Regions from separate parts of the Homo sapiens genome. Here regions 1, 2 and 4 are each linked to region 3. Evidence: fine-mapped expression QTL. A gene starts in region 3. Each other region holds a variant in brackets. All regions are shown on one strand. Distances are between the middles of the regions. Region 1 overlaps TRAF3IP2 (TRAF3 interacting protein 2). Region 2 overlaps TRAF3IP2 (TRAF3 interacting protein 2). Region 3 holds the start of REV3L (REV3 like, DNA directed polymerase zeta catalytic subunit). Region 4 overlaps TRAF3IP2 (TRAF3 interacting protein 2).

Evidence for each region. PIP is the estimated chance that this variant, and not a neighbour inherited with it, causes the effect. A credible set is the group of variants that fine-mapping cannot tell apart.
Region 1: its variant is the best candidate, but not a certain one, in a credible set for the expression of REV3L in subcutaneous fat (GTEx, PIP 0.54).
Region 2: its variant is the best candidate, but not a certain one, in a credible set for the expression of REV3L in neutrophils (BLUEPRINT, PIP 0.74).
Region 4: its variant is the best candidate, but not a certain one, in a credible set for the expression of REV3L in whole blood (INTERVAL, PIP 0.60).

The regions. Positions count from the first base shown.
Region 1 is chr6:111,592,775-111,595,457 of GRCh38, forward strand. The region is part of intron 1 of TRAF3IP2 (TRAF3 interacting protein 2); the gene reads right to left. It also overlaps TRAF3IP2-AS1. Among named protein-coding and RNA genes, the nearest start is that of TRAF3IP2, 12 kb to the right of the region's middle. The variant C/T (reference allele first, on the strand shown) is at 1,046.
Region 2 is chr6:111,584,028-111,586,710 of GRCh38, forward strand. The region is part of intron 2 of TRAF3IP2 (TRAF3 interacting protein 2); the gene reads right to left. It also overlaps TRAF3IP2-AS1. Among named protein-coding and RNA genes, the nearest start is that of TRAF3IP2, 21 kb to the right of the region's middle. The variant C/CAA (reference allele first, on the strand shown) is at 1,307.
Region 3 is chr6:111,481,793-111,484,475 of GRCh38, forward strand. It overlaps REV3L (REV3 like, DNA directed polymerase zeta catalytic subunit), which reads right to left and starts at 1,426. Exons shown (of 32, transcript NM_001372078.1): 1 at 958-1,426. The coding sequence starts at 1,096. It also overlaps TRAF3IP2-AS1. RefSeq lists enhancers at 313-372, 2,213-2,572 and silencers at 743-822, 883-952, 1,013-1,312, 1,483-1,712, 1,753-2,142.
Region 4 is chr6:111,588,922-111,591,604 of GRCh38, forward strand. It overlaps TRAF3IP2 (TRAF3 interacting protein 2), which reads right to left. Exons shown (of 9, transcript NM_147686.4): 2 at 2,337-2,683. It also overlaps TRAF3IP2-AS1. Among named protein-coding and RNA genes, the nearest start is that of TRAF3IP2, 16 kb to the right of the region's middle. RefSeq lists an enhancer at 2,276-2,683. The variant T/C (reference allele first, on the strand shown) is at 1,352.

The DNA.
Region 1 (2,683 bases), 110 kb after region 3:
AAAGCAAGCCCAAGTTTAAAACACATTGAAAAAAGGTCAGAGTGACATTTTCTACCTAATTTTAGGTCATTTGGAGGACTTAATTCCCTCTGGGCACTATGCCTGCAACAAAGGTAGCCATGACCATCTGGTTTGTGATGTAGTTGAACCAGCAAGGCTCGCTAAACTAGACCTTAGCCTGCAGAGCATTTATCCAACGGGCCGGGCAATATTGCTTTTAGCTGTAAGAAGAACTCTTAATTCACCTAACACAATGAGAAAGAAAACCAGTCTCCTCTCATCATTAAACTGATTGAGATGATGCCTTGACTGCAGGGGCAGGAAGAACGCAGTCCAGAGGACTGCACAGGAGCAACTGGGGGTTTGCAGGAGGCTGCAGAGCAGGTGTCGTAAAAGAGCAAGCAAGTGAAAAAGAAGAAATCCCAGAGGGTTATTCTATGCAAGGCTAGTACACAGCATACTTCAAATACCAGAGAGAGAAAAGGGATTATGTCTGGATTTAAAAATTCCTACTTTGGATCCATGTCGCATTTCAACCACATTCACTGAGGGCTCACTGTGCCTAAAGTCAGTTTACATAAATTATGTTCTAAAACAAGTTTCGGAGAGCATGAATTCACTTTCTCTTGCACCTTGTACCCAATCCAATGGGATCAGGACAGCATGCATTTTGAAATGCTCCCCTTTCACACAGATGGGGCCAGCAGTTTTCCACCAAATATACTTAACAGCCTACAGAAAGATACCTCTCCACTCCCTGCCAAATGAATGCTCTTTGACAGTCTTCTCCCACTTGGTATCAAACTTACCCACCTGCTGCACAACGACCCTTGCTCTGTTTTCTGACGCAACAGAAAACTCAACTTCTAACTTCCGGCTGGCCTTCCCTCCTCCCTCCGTCTCTCCCTTTCCCTGTCCTTGTCCTTTTCAGGCTGTGTATGTCCTCTGCTCATTGGCTCTGCAGAAAAGGAGACCTCATCAGCTAAAGTGATCAGACCTTATAAAAATGAACAAGAGCCTACCCAAAAAACCTGTAAATAAATAT[C/T]GCAACTTTTTATTATTTAAAAAATGTTTGGCCGGGCGCAGTGGCTCGGGCCTGTAATCCCAGCACTTTGGGAGGCTGAGGCGGGTGGATCACCTGAGGTCAGGTATTCGAGACTAGCCTGGCTAACATGGCAAAACCCCCTTTCTACTAGAAGTACAAAAATTAGCTGGGCGTGGTGGCATGTGCCTGTAATCCCAGCTACTCAGGAGGCTGAGGCAGGAGAATCGCTTGAACCTGGGAGGTGGAGGTTGCAGTGAGCTGAGATTGCGCCACTGCATTCCAGCCTCAGCGACAAGAGCGAGACTCCATCTCCAAAAAAAAAAAAAATGCTCACCATTTTTTCCCTTTCTTTCTTGCAATTTTTCCACAGTTATGAAATTGGATGTGCCACACAACATGCTCTTCAGCCGGTCAGAAAACGAAAATATTTTTTCAAGGCCTGGCTGACTGTTGTGTCATCGTCTACATGCACTTGTGGGCACACAGCTGAATGGGAGGCAAAGAGATGCAAAAAGTGAGCTGAGTGGCAGGAGGACTAATTCCTGTCCTCTCTTTATTGCCATGGGATTTGCTTTCAATCCTCACTCTTCAGGTACAACTATTTCCATTCTCACTGGGTTTTCCAGTGTGAGTACCTTAGAAGCGCTTTTCTACCTAAAGAAAAAAAAAGTTGCAAATTCTACTCTTCTAGCTGAGGAGCCATCTGGGGGCTTGGAGGAGGCTTTAAAAAAAGTGATGAGGGCAGTCATCTCACATAAACTGGAAATCTGAGGTCATCCTCTGGTGGGAATTCTTCAGTTAAAACTGCTCTGGGGCTGGGCGTGGTGGCTCACACCTGTAACCCCAGCACTTTGCAGGCTGAGGCAGGAGGATTACTTGACCCCAAGAGTTCAAGACCAGCCTTGGCAATATAATGAGACCCTGTCTCTACAAAAAATTAAACAAATTAGCCAGGTGCGGTGGCGTGAGCCTGTAGTCCCAGCTACTTGGGAGGCTGAGGTGAGAGGTCACTTGAGCCCTGGAGGTGTCCAGCCTGCAGTGAGCCGAGATCGTGCCATGGCACTCCAGCCTGAGTGACAGAGCAAGAACCTGTCTCAAAAAATAAAAATAATTTTTTAAAAAACTGGTCTGGCCAGGCGCGGTGGCTAATGCCTATAGTCCCAACACTTTGGAAGGCCAAGGTGGGTGGATCACCTGAGGTCAGGAGTTCAAGACTAGCCTGGCCAACATGGTGAAACCCTGTCTCTACTAAAAGTACAAAAATTAGCTGGGTATGGTGGCAGGCACCTGTAACCCCGGCTACTTGGGAGACTGAGGCTGAAGAATCGATTAAGCCTGGGAGGCGGAGGTTGCAGTGAGCTGAGATCACAACTGTTGTACCCCAGCCTGGGCAACAGGAGCGAAACTCTGTCTCAAAAGAAAATAAAATAAACTGGTCTGAAAAGGAACACATGGCTTTTGAGTATTTAGTAAATAAACCTGGCATGGCAAGAAACAACTTCTAATAAAACTATGGAATTAATAATCTTTAAAAAACAAAATGGACCCTGGTGTTTCAAACATGTCACTATCAAATACTCAAAACAGCAGATAATTACAGAACTCAACTATGTGTCCAACTCAATGCTGTGTATCCCC
Region 2 (2,683 bases), 100 kb after region 3:
CTATATCCATTAATGAATGGCTAATATTGTTTTATTTGCTTTAAAAGGACTACCAAGCTCTAATCATAGGGTTTATTTCTTTTCCAGAAAGCGGATGTTGGTGCTGTTAATCAAAAGCCTTTGAATCAAGGTCATATGATTTCTAACAGATTATTTCCCTCACAACATGTCTTTGTCTCACAGCAACAAATCATATCATTAAAATCACCAAGGCATGTGGGCTAAGTGTTTGATTAGCTGTAACTTTCATTTCAGAAACGGCCACCTGTGGTAAAAAGTTATGCCAGTTTATGTGAGCAGATGAAAATGATACACCTCATCAATTTTTAAAATTAGGGTACTGACAATATAGTCCTCCATGCTGTCCTTTTATTGTTGAAAACAAAGGAAAACTGAGTATCAGTGGATCAGTAAGAAATGAGTGTTCCCTTTTGTAAGTGGAATCTGACCAGCTTTGTCTGGAATTTGACTGGTTGTATGGAAAAGGTTCCTAAATAGGCTGGACACGCCTGTAATCCTAGCACTTTGGGAGGCCTAGGTGGGTGGATCTCTTGAGCCCAGGAGTTTAAGACCAGCCTGAGCAACAAGGTGAAATCCCATCTCTACAAAAAAATACCAAAAAAAAAAAAGAAACAAGAAAAGTTGCTAAATAAAAACTATGTTTATCAAGTAAATGACCATCATTTCACTGCTAAAGTTTTAATCATTTTTTTCCAATTACTATGACGAAGGCTTGCCAATTTACTTGGGTACTATACATGTAAAATAATGGCTAACATTTATTGATCACTTGCTACATGTCAAGTACTGTTCTAAGTTCCATATTGAGAATTATAGAGTTCAATTTTCCATTTTCATAAAGAAGTTTAACTCAGAATAAAAATCCAGATTCCTCACCATGGCCCATCCAGCCTTCATCTTCTAGCACACCATTCTCTCCTTGCTCACTCTGCTAGGCCCCACTGACTTGCTTTTGGTATCTTAATGACATCAAGCTCCTTGCTTCCTTAGCTCCTTGCTTCCTTGACCTTCTCATCCTTTAGGTTTCAGCTCAGATGTCTACTTAAAGAGATTCTCTGGTCAACCTGTCTATTAATGTCTGTTCCAACAACCAGTTACTTCCCTTATAGCACTTATAATTTGTCATTCTGTTTCTGACTTCTACTTCTTATCCATCTCTCCAGTAGACTGTGAATTCCATGAAAACAAGGACGGTGTATAACTATTTGCTGAATAAATTGATAAGTGGATGGACAGGTTCTGTTTCCAAATTTCATTGACTCCCTTCTTTGCTTCCCTCCCAGGC[C/CAA]AAAAAAAAAAAAATGGCTTTTCCAAGGCTTCACATTACAAAGACTCTACTCATGATTAAGGCTCACTCCTTTCCCCAGGAAGTAGAGAACAGATTTCTTTTTATTCATTCAACAAATATTTATTGAACCTCGATGGCCAGGCACTTGGTGAACAAAGATAAATAGGATACAGTTCCCTTGGGATTAGCTCAAAATAAATGGAGAGAGAAAGAGAAAATCTATGTGTCTGTGGGTGTCTGTTTTTAAACACAAACCCACACTAGTTAGTGTGTGAGAAGGGGAGACATATGAGTCGACAGCCACCTACTTGAGAATCCCTGTTCAGAAATAGCTTCCCTGCGGACTTGTCCCCAATGCCTACAGTTCCATCAAGAGAGTTAATTCTGTAGGAGAGGGAAGGTGGATGATGTGATAGACAAATGATTTGCTAGCATGGTAACTCCTCAGTTCAGAGGCAGTGTTAATCACAAAGCAAAAATGAAAATCTTGCACAATCACAAATGGGCGCCCAGGACTGTATGTTATTTGTCAATCCTGTGATCTTCTTGGCCTGAGTACACACGATCTTCATGTTACTGAGCTTTTACCATTTGGAATATGTAAACCAAATCCTAAATGAGGTTTTCCATTTATCAGTCACAACATGCAACATTTTTCTTCCTTATTAAGAATTAAAAGAGTTTATGAGAGAGAAATAAAATCTGATTTTCAAGTTGTCAAAAAAAATCGTGATATAATGCAATCAGTTTAGCCAGGAAACAAAATGGCCAATATAAACTGTTGCAGGAACTCCCACAGCTGTAAGCAGCTGTCGTTCCTGAAAGGCAACTCCTTCTTTATCATTTCTTCCATCTGGTTTATTTTTTGTGCATGCATTCTAGCATACAAATAATCCCTCCCCTTTTTTTTTTTTGGTCCACAGGTACAATTGTACACATGTACCTGTAATTTTATTCTATTCAGTCTCCTTGGTAGAGAAAGCAATAATTTTATAATAAAATGAGGGCTCTCTAGACTTAATTCTCTCTCTTTTCCCAATATATTTGCATCATGAGTTTCATTTGATTGCACAGCCATGAACTCCATGCTGGCGACCTTCAGTGGAAGGATTCGGAGGCAGCAGGAGGCCGACTTCTCCAGGGGGTGGGGTGAGGAGAAAACGTAGACTTATTCCCTTTCTTATTTCCACCTACTTTGAAAACTTTTTTTTTTTACATGAAAGGGGCGACCAATAACCATTTTTGCTTTAACTTGCAAAAAGCTTAGATATGCCATTTGCATGGTGATCATTATTTATTTATATATTCATTAATGGGTAAGGAAGTAATGCTCTTCTAAAGCTGAGTAGAGCCACGTAGCCATGGTTTCCAACTGCA
Region 3 (2,683 bases):
ACTGGGCCTCTATCTTTTTTATATTATCATAAGCCCCAGGAGTTTTTGAGAACGTACCTTCTGTCACGGCTGTCTCCCCTTCCCATCCCTTCTTCAACATAGTTGTGTTTAAAAAATATATACCTGTACTTAAAACGCAATCCTACAGCCCAGCCTAGGAGCATTTCAAAATGTCTGTGCTGCTGAGTCTGGCTGTGGTTCCTAATAAATTCACCCCATTAAGTGTGATGTTTTAGGTTGGGCAACATAAACACGCATTTCCTACTTCCATGGATGCACATTTCCTGAAAGCACTGCACCTAAGGATGCTGCCCTGTCCCCCGACGCTCAGGCACTAAACTCTAAGGAGTCACGACCTGCACTCACAGCAGAGCCACACGGTCACCCCAGTGAGAAAGATTATCTGGCCCCAAGCGCCACTCTCTCCGGCCCACTGCATCTCCGGAACTGGCAGAGGAGAGCGAGGGTGAGAAGAGACCATGGGGAGCGACTGACAACAAGGCTGACACTTCCCCGTTTCCAGAAAGCGGCACTTGGGGGACACAAGGGATGTCCCACTAGCGACCGACCTCAGAGCAGGCCCTACGAACCCGTCCACCGATGGACATGGCGCGGCCACCTGGCCCGCCGTCCGGGGCGCCCGCGGCTTTCGCTCTCCCGGCCCGCGCCCTGGAGTGCGGCTCCCGCTCCCGGCCGCCACACGCAGTCTAAACACGCGGCGCTCGCCACCTCCCTGCCCGGGGGTGGGGGCGCCGCGCAGCGCTCGCGCGGACCCACATTTTTGCGGCTCTTGTCACGCACGAGAGAAAAGGCGAGGAGGGCGGAGGGGAGGGAAGACGCGGCAGCGATCCACGGAGACGGCCGGCGCCGGTGGCGTGTGCGCGTGTGCGCGGCGGGGAGGGCGGCCCCGGCGCCCCGCCGACTCCCGCTCCCGCCCCGCGCCCGGCGCCCGCTTACCTGCCGGGGTCGCTCCGAAGACTCGCACCACCGGCACCTTCTTGACAGGGGCCTGGGTGAGGGGGGATTGGCAGGTATCCAGCCCCTGCAGCGGGCTGGCCATGTAGTAGTCTGCAGTCACTATCCTTACTGAAAACATGTTCGCCGCCGCCGCCACTGCCTCCCTTCACTGGCGACCCGGCAGCGGCAGCAGCAGCGGCGGCGGCTCCCTCCGCAGCGGCGGCGGCGCCCCCTCCCCTTCTCGGCACGGCCCCCTCCCCTCACACAGAGGCACCTCGAGGAGCGGCGGGCGGGGCGGTGTAGGCGCTGCTGCCGCCGCCTCCTCAGGAGCACCCGGCAAGGGGCCGCAGGAGAGAAGCCCTCGAGCTTTCGTCGGTGCTGGTGCTGCCGCCACTGCCGCCACCGCCGGGAATCACACGGGCTCCTCGGTCCCAGGCTGCAGCTCTTGTTGCCATGATGATGATGTCACGGACGCAACCACTGGGGGGAGGGGAGAGGGGGGTGTGTGTGGCGAAGGGAGGCTGCGAGTAGTGCGGGGGAGGGGGCTCGGCGGGAAAAGGAGCGAGAGGGCGGGCGCCCGGGCGGGACACGGAGGGCGGGGGCCGAGAAGGGGCTTTCTCCCCCTCCCCGGGCACGCGGCGAGGGAGGCGGCCGGCGGCCGGCAGCGCCCGCGCGGGATCGATGACTCGGCTGGCGGGCACGGTCACCTGGGTGAGGGGCAGCGGAAGGGGCGGCGGAGCACCGATCTCATGGATGGGCTCCGAGGGGCTTGCGGGAGGGGGGCGCCAGTGTTCGGGGCCGTTTTGGCGGCTATGCAGGATTGGCAGGAGCTGCGATGCTCACACTTGCCTCGCCGACCGCCATTTCACATCCAGCAGAGGAGGCGGGGGCAGCCGCTGAGACGGTTTTTCACAAGGTAAGAAAATCCGCCCGCGTGAGGAGGGAGGCGAGGCGCAGATCTCGTGCCGCTGCGGCCTCGCGGGAGGGAAGGGCGGGCGGGCGGCGGAACGGGCGGGGCCGGGTGCGGACGCAGCCGGCCCTTCTCAGGTAACGCCGCGGCTCCGCGCGTGGCCCGGGGGCGGTGCGAAGGGTGGGGGCGCGCGGGCGCGGGCTTCGGCCTATAAAAGGGCCGCCCTGGCGTTCCCCCTTCCCGAACGTGCCGCGCGAGCCGCGGTGCCCCCTCCTCTTTGCTGCTGCAGTGTCTGCGCCGGGCCATTTAATGAGATTTATTCACGCACGGCTCTTCTCAGCTTTGCGAGGGGTTGGCAGATCCAGTGCACAGGGATTTCCCACTACCGTGTTTTTCTCCCGCCCCCTTCCTTCCCTCTCGTCCTAATACATCCTTCGTTGGTTTCCTCGGCCCCGCAGGCTGCGTCCCGGGCACGCGCAAGTACATGTAAGGACTTGTCAGCTGCCGGTGACCTCCCTCCTCCCTCGTCGCTCCTCCCCCAGCGGAATGTAGGATTAACAGTCTTTCCGAGAAAATTTTGGCCAAAGAAAAAGGCCTGTGAAAGTCACCGCGTTAGACGTGGCCTCCTCGTGTTTTTCACTAACACGTTATGGAAGGTTTTACTACCCGAAGGCATAAAAGCACCACCGTGGGGAAGGGCCGTTTTGAATAAACAACTTTATTCAAAAATCGAGAGGGGGTGAAGCGATGCAGTTAGGGAATTTTTGTTTTAAAGAGTAGTAACATGCAGCTGGCTTGGCTATTAAATTGGAAACA
Region 4 (2,683 bases), 110 kb after region 3:
AAAAACACTGAAAATTGATATGTCAAAACCCTAATAAGGAATTCTATTTGGGTGGCAGAAATATGAAAACTTTTTCTTTTCTTTTTTGAACTTCTGGGCATATTTTAATTTTGGGAGTGACCAAATATTATAATGATCAGAAAAATTATCTTTTTTTTTTTTTTTTTTGAGATGGAGTCTCACTGTGTCATCGCCCAGGTGCAGTCTCGGCTCACTGTAACCTCTGCCTCCCAGGTTCAGGCAATTCTTGTGCCTCAGTCTCCCGAGTAGCTGGGATTACAGGCGCCCGCCACAACAACTGGCTAATTCTTTTTGTATTTTTAGCAGAGACAGTGTTTCACCATGTTGGCCAGGCTAGTCTCAAACTTCTGATCTCAAGTGATCCACCCACCTTGGCCTCCCAAAGTGCTGGGATTACAAAGTGGGGTGAGCCACCGTGCCTGGTGAAAACTTACCTTTAAATACAGATAACAGAATGTTAAAAAGTAGTTTATGGTATTATTCTCACAAATTACTCCTTTTAAACCTGGCAATCACTGAGAAATACAGCCTTGACCTTGCCAACATTCAGTTCTCAGTGATTCATACTTAAGGGAATCCACCACCACACCCACCCTATGACTGGGCGCTTAGAGCAGGGGTGGCATCCATGCACTCCCACTCTGTTGACTTCCCAGCATTTATACACCACGTCCCAGTTTTAGGCATCAGAGGCTCTTTCTCCCGCTCCAGCCCAAGGCCCCATTCTCCTTACACCCTCCTGCTTCCCCAGCCCCTGCCCTCATTCCTGATCTCACACTCATTCTTACCTATTTCTTCCAAGCATCTTCTAAGTTACATTTCTCTATCTCCTCTTTGTTTTTTTCTTTTTTGAGTTATGAATTACTGTGTTGCTCTCTTCACTTTAGGAAGCTTTATACTTAGTATACATGTACTAATATGTAAATTATGGTTGATTACAGCATTTGTAATTATTTCTATAATTTATTTTAAAGCTGCGCATCAGGCCTTTGGTCAGGCACTTCTTACACTCTGAACTACTTTCTGTCCAGTGTTTATTTGCTAAGAAAAATATCAGGCCTCACAGCCCTGTGTTTCATCTGTAAAGCCCTTTTGTTATTTTCCAGTGGCCTCAGCGGAGATTTAACATCAAGAATGGTAGTAGGAAAAAAAAAATGGTGATAGAACCTTTTATCTCAACCTAAGACTTATCACTTTCAGAGATGCTTCCTGCACTGATACATATTATTATTTCGGAAGTAGTTTATTGAGAGTCTAGTATGTGCCAGACACTGTGCTTAAATCCTGGGGAATTATGAATTGAAAGTACACGTTTGCATTTGCAGATGCA[T/C]AAAAACTTGCAGTCTAGAAGGAGAGGAGACACGTACATAATTAGATGCCATGCTGGTGTTAGGTGTCCCAACAGGGCCAGAGCAGGAGGGAGACAGAGGCCCTGAAGGAGAACGTGATCTGGGGAGGTTTCCAGAGGGACACTTGAGCTAAGTCTCAAAAAATGTGTATGATGGTGGTTGCATAACTCTGTAAATATACTAAAACTTATTGAATTTTTTATTTAAAATGGGTTAAGGGTAAACCTTGCAGTATGTATATTAGATCTCGATAAAGCAGTTTTTTTAAAAGGTGTATTGAAACTGGGTCAAACACACCAGAAGGGGAAGAACATCCCCAAGAGAGAGAAGAGCCTGGCAAACGCATGGAGATGTGAACCATCGCGACAAGTAGGGGGACTGCCAGTCTTAGAGTGGCTGGAATGTAGGGTAGCTGTGGATGGCTCAAGTGTCCAAAAGGATTTAAGCAGCAAAATCACAGAAACAACTTCATTTTCATGTAATGGCCCGAATCCCAGAGTCTCAATGACATTCTGGGCACCTTCTGGTTTTTTGTTTTGTTTTGCTTTGTTTTTGACTAAAAGCCCTTTCTCTGCCAAGTCTAAGATGGGGAAGAAAGATGACGAGAAGGAAGAACCCATATGCCCAAAGATTAGAACAAAAAATACATTTTCTAGAAATCATTTTGGTCATCTCTCTGCTTCTAGGCAGGTTTGTTAAACTAACCCAGACAGAGGAACCCATTTTGTCCTTAAAGGTCCCTAGAGAAGGAGACTCCAAGTGGGACAGGCTTTAGGCTAAGAAAAAGCATTCTCTGCAGGCCCTTTGCAAATCCAGCCACACATGGAAAGCCCCTAAGAGAAGCAGAATGCCCTCCCTGCATTCTGACCTGTTCATGCCAGCCTAGTGACACGAAGCATTGATGTGAGGCCCTTGTTTCTTCAGTCACCCAGCCCAGAATGCCCAGAGGAGGTAAAGATCACTTACATGGCACCTGGTGATCGGGACTTCCAGGACAATGGTAATGATAGTTCCATGGAGCATGTGGGGAAAGATTGGGAGGCAGCATCTGTGCACATGCTGGATACCTCTGAGGTTCAAACTGAGGGAACTCCCTGGACCTGAGAGGTCTGGGGAGGTCCTGGGGGTAACACACGGAGGTGAGGGGCAGGGGCCTTTCCAGCTGCCTGATGCCCAGGACATCCTGGGGCTGGGAATCATATCCCGTGTCTATGGTTGGCAGATCCAGGCCTGCTCGGTTCCTGTGAGGCTGGGGCCGTTGCACCATCTCCTGGCTACCGCCCAAGGAGTCTGCTGAGGCATTAGGTAAACTT